Homo sapiens: one gene and its partner. The protein of the gene in region 1 interacts with the protein of each later gene in a pairwise test. Each region holds a gene or a part of one and is shown on either strand. Other genes may lie near its edges.

Evidence for each region. Proteins that work in one complex are often made in the same cells at the same time.
Region 2: the proteins of LARP1B (region 1) and RBBP8NL interact in binary tests that used the Homo sapiens proteins (3 or more experiments, as listed by UniProt).

The regions. Positions count from the first base shown.
Region 1 is NC_000004.12:128,064,310-128,071,350, forward strand, and holds part of LARP1B (la-related protein 1B), read left to right. Parts: intron 1-4,389; exon of another isoform or gene 4,390-5,339; intron 5,340-7,041.
Region 2 is NC_000020.11:62,417,513-62,424,553, forward strand, and holds part of RBBP8NL (RBBP8 N-terminal-like protein), read right to left. Parts: intron 2,219-7,041; 5' UTR 2,136-2,218; coding exon 2,075-2,135; intron 954-2,074; coding exon 911-953; intron 1-910.

The DNA of each region.
Region 1 (7,041 bases):
CACCCATTATGTTATGTTAACATTTCTTCAGAGGAACTCTCCAAAGAGGGAGATATGTGTTGAGTTAATTCATTCATTTGCCTTTGCACAGAAATACTCCTCATTAATTGTTGATAAATTTTGACACTTGCAGAAAAAAAGTTTGCTCTGGATTTAATATTGGCATAATTCCTTCCTCGCTATAAAGAGCTGTTTGTTTACTCCTATTACTAACTAAAGAGAACATGGTTAAGTGAAGACCTCATAAAGTTTTTCTTTTTTTTCTTTTTTAAAGCCCAGTGGCAAGCACTCTAAAATTTAGCAAAGAAAGAAAACCCTAGTGAATCATCTTATTTGCTGTTTCACCTCTCTACTTCTAGACTTACAGACAATTAAGTGAATTACCAAGTAGGAACTCTTTGTTGATCATAAAACCAGTATCATAGATTTTAAAACTTCGAAGCCATACATGGTAGTGTGTGCCTGTAGTTTTAGCTCCCTGGGAGGCTGAGGCAGGAAAAATCAGTTTTGCCCAGGAGTTTGAGGCTGTAGTGTCCTGTCATAGTGCCTGTGAATAGCCACTGCATTCTAGCCTGGGCAATATAGCAAGACCACGTTTAAAATAATAATATTAATAATAATAATAATGATAATAGAACTTTAAAAACTGTCAAGGTAAGCCTTGGGAACTTTAATTGCAAATGACCTGTGAAAAATATTTAACAGTTAAGCTATTGGTGCCTTCATTCTCCAGTCTTCACTGGAGATTAAGAACACTGTGATACTAGTTGTATGGTATGGTTCATGGAAATTTCAGTTTTGCTGTTGTCTTGTGTAGGCAACTCTTTCTGTCTTTGGATGGAATCCATTCTGCACTGGCAGGAAGACCATCTTTCAGACCTGGCATAGTGTAGTAACCATGGTCTCTTCCCAACACTGACTCTGCACTGTTCTCCCACAATTAATTTCTTTCTTTCTTTCTTTCTTTCTTTCTTTCTTTCTTTCTTTCTTTCTTTCTTTCTTTCTTTCTCTCTCTCTCTCTCTTTCCTTTCTTTTCTTTTCTTTTCTTTTCTTTTCTTTTCTTTTCTTTTCTTTCTTTTTTCAAGAGATGGAGTCTCTCTGTGTTTCCCAGGCTGGTCTTGAACTGCTGGCCTCAGGCGATCCTCCTGCTTCCCAAAGTGCAGGGATTACAGACATAATCAGGCTTTCTATTTTCTTAAGCAAATTTACAACTTCAGGAGTAAAGAAACAGGACCACAGTCTATTTGCAGTTAAATAACTTAGGTAACTTAGATAAAAGAGATTGTGGTGTAGAAACATACTGTTTTGAGAGACTTGGGTTCTAGTGCAGGTATTGTTACTAACTGGCTAGTTGACTTCTGGCAAGATTTCTGGGCATTATAAATGAATAACATGGATAGACTCATTTCCTCTGGTTCATAATACCAGAGTGCCACTTATAACCTGGCTGCCTTGGCTTCCATTTATATATTTATTTAATATTATTTAATTCATTTAAATAAATACATTTTACATTAGTTTATTTAAATAGGTAGATAGATTGTCAGTCTTGCTCTATTGCAGTGGTGAGATCATAGCTCACTGCAGCCTTGACCTCCTGGACTCAAGCAATTCCCCTGCCTTGGCATCCCAAGTAGTTGGGATGACAGGCACGCATGTCATTCCATGGAATTAGCCATGCCCGGCTAGTTATTTTTAATTTTTTTTTGTAGAGACAGGGGCCCCCTTTGTTGTCCAGGCTGGTCTTGAGCTCTTGGGGTCAAGCTATCCTGCCTCAGCCCCCACAAAGTGCTGGGACTACAGGTGTAAGCCACCCTGCCTGGCGGCTTTCTATTGTCTATTTTCTTTCTTTCTTCTTTTTTTTTTTTTTTTTTTTTGTTATATTGAGACAGAGTCTCGCTCTGTCGCCCAGGCTGGAGTGCAGTGGTGCAATCTCTGCTCACTGCAAGCTCCGCCTCCCGGGTTCACACTGTTCTCCTGCCTCAACCTCCTGAGTAGCTGGGACTACAGGCGCCTGCCACCATGCCCGGCTGATTTTTTGTATTATTTTAGTAGAGACGGGATTTCACCATCTTAGCCAGGATGGTCTCGATCTGCTGACCTCGTGATCCGCCGGCCTCGGCCTCCCAAAGTGCTAGGATTACAAGCGTGAGCCACTGCGCCCGGCCTTTTTTTTTTTTTTTTTGAGATGGAGTTTCATTCTTGTTGCCCAGGCCGGAGTGCAATGGTGTGATCTCTGCTCACCGCAACCTCCACCTCCTGGGTTCCCCCGATTCTCCTGCCTCAGCCAGCCAAGTAGCTGGGATAACAGGCAAGCGGCACCATGCCTGGCTAATTTTTATATTTTTAGTACAGGCAGGGTTTCTCTATGTTGGTCAGGCTGGTCTCGACTTCCTGACCTCAGGTGATCCTCCCACCTCCACCTCCCAAAGTGCTGGGATACAGGTGTGAACCACCGTGCCTGGCCGGGCTTTCTATTTTCTTGCCATTTTTTTTTTTTTTTTTGAGACAGAGTCTTGCTCTGTCACCCAGGCAGGAGTGCAATGGCGCGATCTTGGCTCACTGCAACCCCCCACCTCCCAGGTTCGAGCAATTCTCCTGCCTCAGTCTCCTGAGTAGCTGGGACTACAGGCGCGCGCAACCATGGTTGCCCGGCTAATTATTTTTTTTTAATTTTTACTAGAGATGGGGTTTTACCACGTTGGCCAGGCTGGTCTCGAGCTCCTGACCTCAGTTGATGCGCCCGCTTCGGCCTCCCAAAGTGCTGGGATTACAGGGGTGAGCCACCATGGTTGACCTCAGGCTATTTTCTTAAGCAAATTTGCAACTTAAGAAGTAAAGAAATAGGACCAGAAGTTGTTTAAAGTTCACAGTGGGTACCTCTAAATCTATTAGTTATCTATTAGTGATTGTATAATTTATACTATATAAATTGTATAATTCTACAAAACAGGATGCTCTTTGAGAGAGAGAATTGTATTGAAATAACAGACTTAAATCAGGTCTATCCTGCTCAAACTTGGATTTACTGTTACTCTGTTAATGAGGTAAAGGAATTCCATCCACAGAATTTTGCCAGGAAGTTTATTACTACAGTTAGAAACATAGGAAACACAGGGGAGAATATTTCAGGACAGAAATTATGAATTTTCTCTACATTACAACCTGCACATCTAAGTGAACCAGATTCTTGATGCCTCGGCCCTTGTGAGAAATTTTCTTCCACTTTTAGGATGATTTTGATCATGTGTTGCTGTTTCTAGAAATCCAGATGAGGCACTCTTCAGCCAAAGTTGCTGCCCACCCAAGAGGCCTTTTATCTTGAAATTTAGTCATGAGACCAGAAGGAACTTCTCCCATCTGTGTCCTGACTTGGTATTAGTTTTATTTTGGATACCTCCTTTTTTTTTTTTTCTTTTTTTGAGATGGCGCCTTGCTCTCGTCGCTCAAGCTGGAGTGCAATGGAGCAATCTCATTGCAACCTCCATCTCCCGTGTTCAAGCGATTCTTCTGCTTCAGCCTTCCGAGTAGCTAGGATTACAGGCGCTCGCCACCATGCCTGCATAATTTTTGTTTTTGTTTTTGTTTTGAGATGGAGTCTCGCTTTGCCACCCAGGCTGGACTGCAGTGGCACAATCTCGGCTCACTGCAAGCTCCGCCTCCCGGGTTCACGCCATTCTCCTGCCTCAGCCTCCCGAGTAGCTGGGACTACAGGCGCCCGCCACCTTGCCCGGCTAATTTTTTGCATTTTTAGTAGAGACGGGGTTTCACCACGTTAGCCAGGATGGTCTCGATCTCCTGACCTCGTGATCCACCCGCCTCGGCCTCCCAAAGTGCTGGGATTATAGGCGTGAGCCACTGCGCCCGGCCAATAATTTTTGTATATTTAGTAGAGATGGGGTGTCACCATGTTGGCCAGGCTGATCTTGAATTCTGGACCTCAGATGATTGACCCACCTTGGCCTCCCAAAGTGATGGGATTGCAGACATGAGCCACCACACCCGGCTTTTTTTTTTTTTTAAGAGACCGAGTCTCACTTTGTCACCCAGGCTAGCGTAGGAGTACAGTGACACAATCATAGCTCACTGCAGCCTAGAACTCCTGGGCCCAAGGGATCCTCCTGCCTCAGCTTCTCAAGTAGCTAGGACTACAGGCATGTGCCACCATGCCTGGCAAATTATTTTATTTTTGTTTTTTAAATTTAAAAATAGAGACAGTATCTTGCCATGTTGCCTAGGCTGGTCTCAGAACTCTTGAACTCAAGCTATTTTTATTTTTTTTTTGAGACAGGGTCTCACTATATTGCCCAGGCCCAGTCTTGAATTCTTGGCGGCCTCAAAGGATTCCCTGCCTCAGCCTCCCAAAGTGCTGCTATTACAGGTGTGAGCCTGGCCTGGCAGATTCCTTTTTTTCCCTCTTTTAAATAATTTATTTTAAACCTATTATATCACACAGTATGTTTTATACACTGACATATAACCCCCTAACAAGATAAAGCAAAGACAAAAAAGTTTATCTTATTAGAAGGAAGATACACCATCACTTATTCTCTTCAAGCATTATTGCACTTTAACTTTTCTTAACTTGACAAAGCATTCATGAAGCAGTCTGCAGACTAGTTTTAACAGATAAATAATACCTGTAAGCAGACATGATTGTCCTAAATTGTTTATTAGGTATGAATTTTACAAACTTTACTTATATTGGCTGTAACGGTGGAGCTGGAGAGTATTGCGCCTTCTCCAAGCTCCCTGGTGAGAACCACCAATAGTGTGGTGGCACTTAAGGCCCTTTCCAAGGCTATGGCTCTTTCGGCCTGCAGATGGCAGCCCATGCATCTTCCTATGCTTGTGGACTGGTTTGGTGATCCATTGGGTGTCAGGATTTCTTCTGATAGCTTTATGGAATGGATCAATGAGGATAACCTCAAAAAACTTGTATGTGGAATCTTCACCAACCCAGTGAGAATTCAGGACTTTTAGAGCCCCACAGTGGCATCCAGCTTGCCGCTTTGCAATGGACTGAAGACTTTGAGCAAACTTTAGCTGGTTAACACCATGATGGACAGGCTTGCCATAAGTTGCACCCTTAGGAACTGGGTGCTTTCGGCCACCATGGCGAACACGAATCCTATATATAACATAAACTTGGTTGGCCTTGTAGCCCAGCTGGTGCGCTTTATCAAGCCAGATGGGGTGGGGAGCCCTGTGGAGAGCAGAGAGCTGGTGGTACTGCCAGCAACCAACTCTCAGAAGAAAGTGCATTTTCTCCATAGCTCCTGGATTTACTTGTATGCCCCCATCTTGGCTTACCTGATGGCTGCTGCTAGACAGAAGGGGCACGGATTCTTTTATTAAAATCACAATATGGGTTTATTAATCCCTTACTTGTATTTATGGTTGTTTTTTGCCTATTAAACATCAGCATTCTAGTATAATTTCCATTCTTTTACTCATAACAATATGATGTTTAAAAAATACTGATTTTTTTCTGTCTTTTTTATTCTTATTTTTCTCGAACCCTATGTTCATCATCAACCTCTTTTCTCCTACTATTTGGTTCATCAACCTTATTTTCTCCTGTTTGGTTCCTAGAAACCTCAAGTAAGCTTACTGTTGTTACCCTAATGAAATACCATTTTAAGTAAGTTATATAGAAAAAATGCATAAATATATTCTCCTTACAAAAATGAAAAACTTTGATGTCATCTTAAGATAATTTACTGAGGCCGAGCGCAGTGGCTCACACCCGTAATCCCAGCACTTTGGGAGGCTGAGGTGGGCGGATCATGAGGTCGGGAAATCGAGACCATCCTGTCTAACACGGTGAAACCCTGTCTCTACTAAAAATACAAAAAAAATTAGCTGGGCGTGGTGGCAGGCACCTGTAGTCCCAGCTACTTGGGAGGCTGAGGCAGCAGAATGGGGTGAAGCCGGGAGGCGGAGCTTGCAGTGAGCAGAGATTGCACCACTGCACTCCAGCCTGGGTGACAGAGTGAGACTCCGTCTCAAAAAAAAAAAGAAGATAATTTACTAAATCTAAACTCCTTTTAAAAATTGCTGAGGACTGCCCGGGCACGGTGGCTCATGCCTGCAATCCGAGCACTTTGGGAGGCTGAAGTAGGCAGATCACCTGAGGTCAGGAGTTCGAGACCAGCCTGGCCAACATGGTGAAACCCTCTCTCTACTAAAAATACAAAAATCAGCTGAGTGTGGTGGCTGGCACCTGTAATCCCAGCTACTTGGGAGGCTGAGGTGGGAGAATTGCTTGAACCCGGGAGGCGGAGGTTGCACTGAGCCAAGATGGTGCCATTGCATTTCAGCCTGGGCAACGAGTGAAATTCCGTCTCAAAAAGAAAAAAGGCTTAGGATGACCGGCTGTAGTGGCTCATACCTGTAATCCTAACACTCTGGGAGACCAAGGTGACCGGGGTTTGAGGACAGGAATTTGAGATCAGCCTGGGCAACATAGTGAAACCCTATCTCAATTAAAAAAAAAAATAGCTAAGGAGTGGTCCTAAATATGGCTGACATAGTTGATTTAGAGATTTACCTGTTGATTATCTTGATTTTTTTCATTTTTGTATCTAGAAGAAACTGAACATTTTTATACATATGTCTTATATCCATGTGTGCCTTTCTCTAGGGTAGATGCTGAGAAGTAGAATTGTTAGGTTATAGGGCATTTTTTAAGTTTATGAGTCACTTTTTATTTATTTATTTTTTAATGTTTTTATTTTTATTTTTTATTTTTTGAGACAGAGTCTCGCTCTGTCGCCCAGGCTGGAGTGCAGTGGCGTGATCTTGGCTCACTGCAAGCTCCACCTCCTGGGTTCATGCCATTCTCCTGCCTTAGCCTCCTGAGTAGCTGGGACTACAGGCGCCCGCCACCACACCCAGCTAATTTTTTGTATTTTTAATGGAGACGGAGTTTCACTGTGTTAGCCAGGATGGTCTCGATCTCCTGACCTCGTGATCCGCCACCTCGGCCTCCCAAAGTGCTGGGATTACAGGCGTGAGCCACCGCACTGGCCTTTACAA
Region 2 (7,041 bases), on another chromosome or scaffold:
CAGTCATCTGCACGCTCCTCTGTGACGTCTGTCCCGTCCACGCAACGCCCCCCCAGTCATCTGCACGCTCCTCTGTGACGTCTGTTCCGTCCACGCACCACCCCCCCCAGTCATCTGCACGCTCCTCTGTGACGTCTGTCCCGTCCACGCACCCCCCCCAGTCATCTGCACGCTCCTCTGTGATGTCTGTCCTGTCCACGCAACGCCCCCCCAGTCATCTGCACGCTCCTCTGTGACGTCTGTCCTGTCCACACACCACCCCCCCGGTCATCTGCACGCTCCTCTGTGACGTCTGTCCTGTCCACGCAACGCCCCCCCAGTCATCTGCACGCTCCTCTGTCACGTCTGTCCTGTCCACGCAACGCCCCCCCAGTCATCTGCACGCTCCTCTGTGACGTCTGTCCTGTCCACGCAACGCCCCCCCAGTCATCTGCACGCTCCTCTGTGACGTCTGTCCTGTCCACACACCGCCCCCCCTGTCATCTGCACGCTCCTCTGTGACGTCTGTCCTGTCCACGCACCACTTTAGTGCCACAGCACAGGCAGGACCATAGCCGGGTCTATAAGCCAGAACGCAGGGAGCCTGCCCGCCCGCCAGTGTCTGACCAGACATGACCCCAGCTCACCGTGAACGTATTGTTGATATTCTGATCATGATCCTGGGGTGGGAGAAGCCCCGAGTAGGGGGCTTGCCCCGCCCCTGGGAGGCCGACGCAACTGGGTTCAAGTGCTGGCTTCGCTGCCTGCTCACCGTGTGACCTTGGACAAGTGACTCCCCCCGCCCCCACACTGAGCCTCAGTTTCCCTTCTGCACCATAGGACGGTGGTAGTGCTGGCACACTGGGGCTTCAGGGGGATGAAGTGGCCAGTGTGGTCCCTGTGAGGAGGGGCCCTGCTTGGCCTGACTCACCGGCACCTCTCTGAGTTCAGTTCCAGAAGCTTGTTCTGCAGGCCTGGGGGAGCAAGCAGAGGGGCGGGGGGTCAGGCCCAGCTGCTGCTTCACCTTCAGTGTCCCCACCACGGGGTCTGGGCAGAGCTGCAATGTGGCACTCCTGTCCCCTGCACCCCCTGGGGGAGCCCTGCCAGGTGAGCCCCTGTCTGTGCCCAGGCACGGGGCTGCCTGAGGCTCGGTGGTCTCGGCCTAGCATCTGTTGCTTCCCCTGGGGTCTCTGCCTCCGGCATCTGTCTGGGGGTGTCTGGGGGTGAGCAGGGACCCTGGTGCCACAAGTGACCAGCCACCTGTGAAAGGTAGAGGGACCGAGGGGCCATTTTGTGTGTGTGTGTGTGTCATAGCTAGTGTTGAAATAAGATAAGCTTCTGGGGCGGACCCCACCAGACCCTCTCCTTGCCGTATCTTGGGGATCCAACCTGGGCCTGGCTAGCCCCAGCAGCCCCACCTCTCTGGGTTGCCTAGGAGGCAGCCGGGTCCTTGGACCTCCAGGTGGGTGTGGGTGCTCAGTGGAAAGACCACGGGGAGGTGCTGGCCCTGGGACTGGACTGGGGGTGGTGTGGGGGCTGCGGCCCTGTCCCTCGTGGGGGAAGTGGACAGGGGTGGGGCCTGGGGCGTGTCCTAGAAGGAAGAGAAGAGTTGCAGCTCAGTGCCTTGACATGTTCTGGATGGGTCCAGAGAGCCATAAGCTCCTGTTTCTGGAAGTGGCTGTCTCTGCCCTGGTGAGCTCAGCAGGCCGGCCAGGGTGGGTACTTCTTTCTGCCACGCTGGAGGCCGGCCCACGGGAGAACAAAGCATGGGCAGCATGGGGCCTGCGGGTGGCAGGTGGCCATGAGGTGTTGGTGGCAACCCTTGAAAGTGCCCCTCCCCCTCGGGGTCACACTCTGGGAGTGGCTCGAGGACATCCCCGCTTGAGGTCAGCACTCGGGCCCAGGCAGGGTGTCTGCCACGTTGTAGCTCTGGGCCTTGGGTCAGGACTCCCCTGCCTGGGCCAAAAAGACGGGGTCCATTCCCTGACTTGGTGGGAATTGGAGGTGATCATGGGTGCACAGTGGCCTGCTCCGACCCTTAGGTGAGGGCTGTGGAGACCCCTCCCTAGCCTGGCATCTGTCCCTGGCCCCTCACCCAGGACTTCCTTCTCGTGGATCTCCTTCAGCCTGTTCAGCGACTCCATGAAGCTCTCCATGGCTCCCTGTGGCCCTGGCCCGGGCCCCTCTGCGCTGGGGTTGTGGAGACGCCTGCAGCCTCTACTGCCCCTCTGTGTCCATCCTGAAGAGGAGGAAGAGGGGACAGGGATCCGCTCAGGAAGGGCTTGTGGGCTGTGGAGTCCAGGAGAGGATTGGGGCTCCTTGTGTCTGTATGGAGCAGACCCCATGCCATGCTGTAGGGGCTACTCATGGGAGGTGGCCTGGAGGCTCCCGAACCCCACGGGCAGGCACAGAGATAGTACATTGTGTGGCTTCCTCCCACACGTATGTGGCCGGGGGCCAGAGGGCAGGGTGCTGGCTGCCGTGCGGGAGGGGCTGGAGGGGCCAGGGAGCATCTGGGGTGAGTGCCGGCACCTCTGAGCCACCCCGTTCTCCCCAGGTATCCAGCCCATCAGTGCCTGGCCTGTCCCCACATAAGCCCTTCCCCTGGCACCTCAATGGAGGGACAGGGAAGCCTGGCAAGAGCTGGATGGTGCTGGTGGCACCTGCCCAGCTGTGAAGCTGGGAGTCAGACCTCACCAGTAAGAGCCCCACAGACCCTACCATGCCACTGTCCACACCCCGGCCCCAACACCACTGTCACAGCACCTCCTTCCCTCTCACCAGAGCCCTGTACTCAGTTCCCTCCTGGGATCTCTGTCCCCCTCCAATGCCGTGGCAGCTTCAATCCTGTCCCACAGGCACACACACACACACACACACACACACACACACACACACACACAGATAGCATGTGCACACAACACACATGCACATATATGCAAAAGACACACACAGAGCATGTACACACATAACACACATGCACAAAGACAGACACACCACACAGCATGTATACACACAACACACAGGCACACACCCAGAGTTACACACATACAACACATATGTACACAGACAGGGATGCCCACACACAACACACAGAGACACATAGACATGGGTATACGCAGACACATGCTGACAACAAAGCTGTGCAGACATAGAGACACAGCTACACATGCAGTTGCAGGTACACGGAAACACACACAGCCACAGCAGCCCCCTCTGCCCGGAAGCGGCTCCCACACGCAGATGCTGGAAGGTTCCAGGAAGAGGTAGGAGCCACTCTGAAGAGGTCACAGGCCCCCTCCCTCCCTGCCTGCCTCCCCTACCCACAGGTCTCAGGAGGTCCTTGGTAGGCAGTGGGTATCTTGTGGTCTCACGGACTAAGGCCAGAATTAAGGGGCCGTGGGGCCTTTGCAGGCTGGGCCTGGGGACCTGGGCTGGAGCACTCATCGTCAAACCCTCCCAGACCTTTCCAAATTCCCAGTGGCCTGGAGAGCTCCCAGGCAGGGCTGGGCGGAGTGAGCCTGGGGGCGCTGTGACTGTCTGTCTGTCCTCCCCTGACCCTTCCCCCTCCTCCCACAGATTGGCCTCCAGGCCTGGGAGGTTGGGATACCGGTCAAGTGGCTGGGCCTCTGCAAGCCAGTGTTTGTGGCACACAAACCGCTGCAGTTCAGACTTCTTCACCGGGTGGCTTGTGCTTCACGCGGTCGGGTGGGGGAGTGTGTGTGTTTGCCGTGTGTGTGCACGCCCGAGCCAGTGTGCATGTGTGTGCCGTGTGTGTGCATGATAGCCAGTGTGCGTGTGTGTGTGCCATGTGTGTGCACGCCCGAGCCAGTGTGTGTCCCATGTGTGTGCACACCTGAGCCAGTGTGCATGTGTGTGTGCCATGTGTGTGCACACCCAAGTCAGTGTGCGTGAGTGTGCGTGTGTGTGCCGTGTATGCGTGATTGCCAGTGTGCATGTGTGTGTGCCGTGTGTGTGCATGCCCAAGTCAGTGTGCATGTGTGTGCTGTGTGTGTGTGATAGCCAGTGTGCATGTGTGTGCACACCCAAGTCAGTGTGCATGTGTGTATGCCATGTGTGTGCACGCCTGAGCCAGTGTGCATGTGTGTGGCATGTGTGCATGATAGGCAGTGTGCATGTGTGTGTGCCAGAGCCAGTGTGCATGTGTATGTGCTGTGTGTGCATGCTCAAGCCAGTGTGCATGTGTGTGGCATGTGTGCATGATAGGCAGTGTGCATGTGTGTGTGCCATGTGTGTGCATACCCGAGCTAGTGTGCGGGTGTGTGCCATGTGTGTGCATGCCTGAGCCAGTGTGCATGTGTGTTTGCTGTGTGTGCACACCCGAGCCAGTGTGCATGTGTGTGTGCCATGTGTGTGCATCTGTTTTTGCTCTGTGTGTGCGTGCCCAAGCCAGTGTGCATGTGTGTGTGCTGTGTGTGTGCATACCCAACCTACTGTGGAACCACTGGTGCGTCACCTGAACAACTGTGTCGGCCTCCTCCCTGCCTGGCCTCCTGCTCAACCTTCCCTGAACCCCCTGCCTCCCCCCATCTCTTCCAGGACCACTCTCCATGGTGGCCATCCCTGGGAAGCTCTGGTCTCTGCTCAGATGTGCACCGCTCTGCTCAAAATCCAACTTCGGGCTCGCAGCTGGAGGCCATGCCCAAGGCCTCGCCACGGCCAGCCCAGCCCAAGTGGATCACAGAGCGGAACAGCCATGGCTGCATCTGGGTTCTCAAAGGTCAGCCTGGAGACGCCCACGTGAGGGTCCTGTGTGCAACATCATTCTACAGAACCGTCCCGAACAGGACCGCCTAACCCCATCCCATGACGGGTGGAATATGGTGGCCGCCCAGCCCCATGCCCATCCCAGCGTGGCCAAACCACCCAAGCCAGGCTTGAGGGTGCATTGAACACAGAAAGAGGCACTTGCCCTGGGGCCCTGGAAGTCAGGTGGTGGGCGTCTTTGGGGGTGGGGCTGGGGTGCCTCTAACTGAGGGTGGCAGGCCTTGGACCCCGAGAGAGGCCTTGGGACCCCGAGAGAGGCCATGGGGCCTGGGGTGGGGACGGGGACTGGGGTGGGGATGGCGACTGGGGTGGGGACGGGGACTGGGGTGGGGATGGGGCCCGGAGTGGGGATGGGGCCCGGGGTGGGGATGGGGACCGGGGTGGGGATGGGGACCGGGGTGGGGATGGTGACTGGAGCCACTTGGAAGGAGGGTGTCCTAACTCTTGCCGAGCCCTTGCACCTGTGATCAAGCATTAGTGCCGAGCCTGGTGGGGCAGCAAGGGGTGTGGGACAGAGTGTGGCCTGTGTTCGGGGGTGGCTGCAGCGTCCCCAGGGGCCCCTGACAGGGCTAGTGGGGCTGCATGGAGGGCGGAGCACCAGGATGCTGGGCTGCAGAGGCTCAGTCCACAGACCCGCCTGGGCTTTGGGGCCTCCAGCCACCCTCGGAGGGAGTGGGGGTGACAGTTGGCGGCTCTGTGTTGGGTGGGTGAGGGATCCTGGGACTAGGGAGACTTGGGGCTTTCCTGGTGGGAGGCTGGGAGGGATGTCTTTGCTGGTGAAGGGGACCAACAGGACGCTGAGCTCCAGAGGTGGGGACAGCATGGAGCCTGCCGGAAGCAGGTCACGTGGCCAGCATCAGTGGTTCTGACCCTGTTTCCCGAACTCCGTACACACTGAGACCTTCCTGACAGCCCACGGAATCTTGACCACACCACGAAGACCTCGCTCCAGATGGGGAAACTGAGGCTCAAACAGATCAAGCCTCCCGTCTCAGTCACCCAGTGGGAAGTGGGATCTGGGTTGTGCCCAGCTCCTGGGGCTGTGGGTCTGCATGCTCTGCCTGTGTGGACTGGGGCGTCCTCCCCATGGCTCTGGTGCACCCAGCTGCACTGGCTTTTCCTGGCCAAGGGGGCCCCTGGGAGGAAGATGTCAGAGCCGGGGCCTCCCTGGGCTCAAGCAGCTGAGGAGGGCCAGGAGGGGGCGGAGCTGCAGCTCCTGAAACTCCCCCCAGACCCGCCCAACAGGCCACTCTTCCCTGGCCCCCAGCATCTGCCATGTGGGCTGGGCCGACGCCCATAAAGGAGCCGCCCAAGGGAGCCCATGGTGCCTGCGGGCCTGGGAGAGGTCTCTGGGGTCCACACGAGAGGTGGGCTTCCTTCCCAGTGAAGTCACTGTGGTGCAGAGGCTGGGACGGAGCCTCTGCTGTGCCTCCCACTCACAGGATCCTTTCTGTGCCCGAAACCACCTGCAGCACTCCTAGAGTGCTGGAGAGCTCCGGGGAAGGGATGGGAGGTGGAGGGAAGTTGCAAGCCTTGGTGCTTTTGGGGAGAAGAAATGAACCAGGATTGTAGAAATTCACCCAGACCCGCACCCGCAGCCTTGAGCCAGGGGTCAGCAGCGGGGTCAGTGGGGCTGGCTTTTTCTTCCCGAGTCAGCCTTCTCTGGGTTTGTTGGGCTTGCCAAGGGCAGCTAGGGGTGCTGGGGCTGGGGGAACTCGGAAGGAGGGTCTCCTCCAGGCCTGGGTGGGGGCTGCAGTGGGGCTGTGATGGGGGAGCAAGCCTACCGGGGCGGGGAGGGGCTGGGCTGAGGCTCATGGGGGGCTTCACAGGGCTGGGGTGAGAGAGCTGAGCTCTGGTCCAGGGTCACCCTCAGCCACTCCTCCCACTCCCAGACCCTCCCACTCGGGAGTCCAGGCTGGAGGGTCTCTGTGGGTGCTGAGCCCCCTGGAAGGAGTGGGGGAAGGGGAGGGCAGGCTAGTGAGCCGCTGTCCCACCTGCTGCTTGCAGCTGGGCCGTGGGGGGGGCAGGTGTGAGGGGCGCATGTCTGTCCCCCTCGACACCACTCTCACCCCACCATGCCTTGCCCTCTGCTCCATTTTGCCACTGAGAACACGACCCAGAGGTGGCGTCTTGCCCACGGTCAAAGCTAGTGAGAGCCGGGCTGGGCTTCAGCTAACCCAGGCCGGCAGCTCCGCCTCCTGCAGTGAGGTGCTACTGGTGCCAGCACCTTTGCCTTCGGGGGACTGCTCCTTAAAACCAAGGGGCGACGTGCTG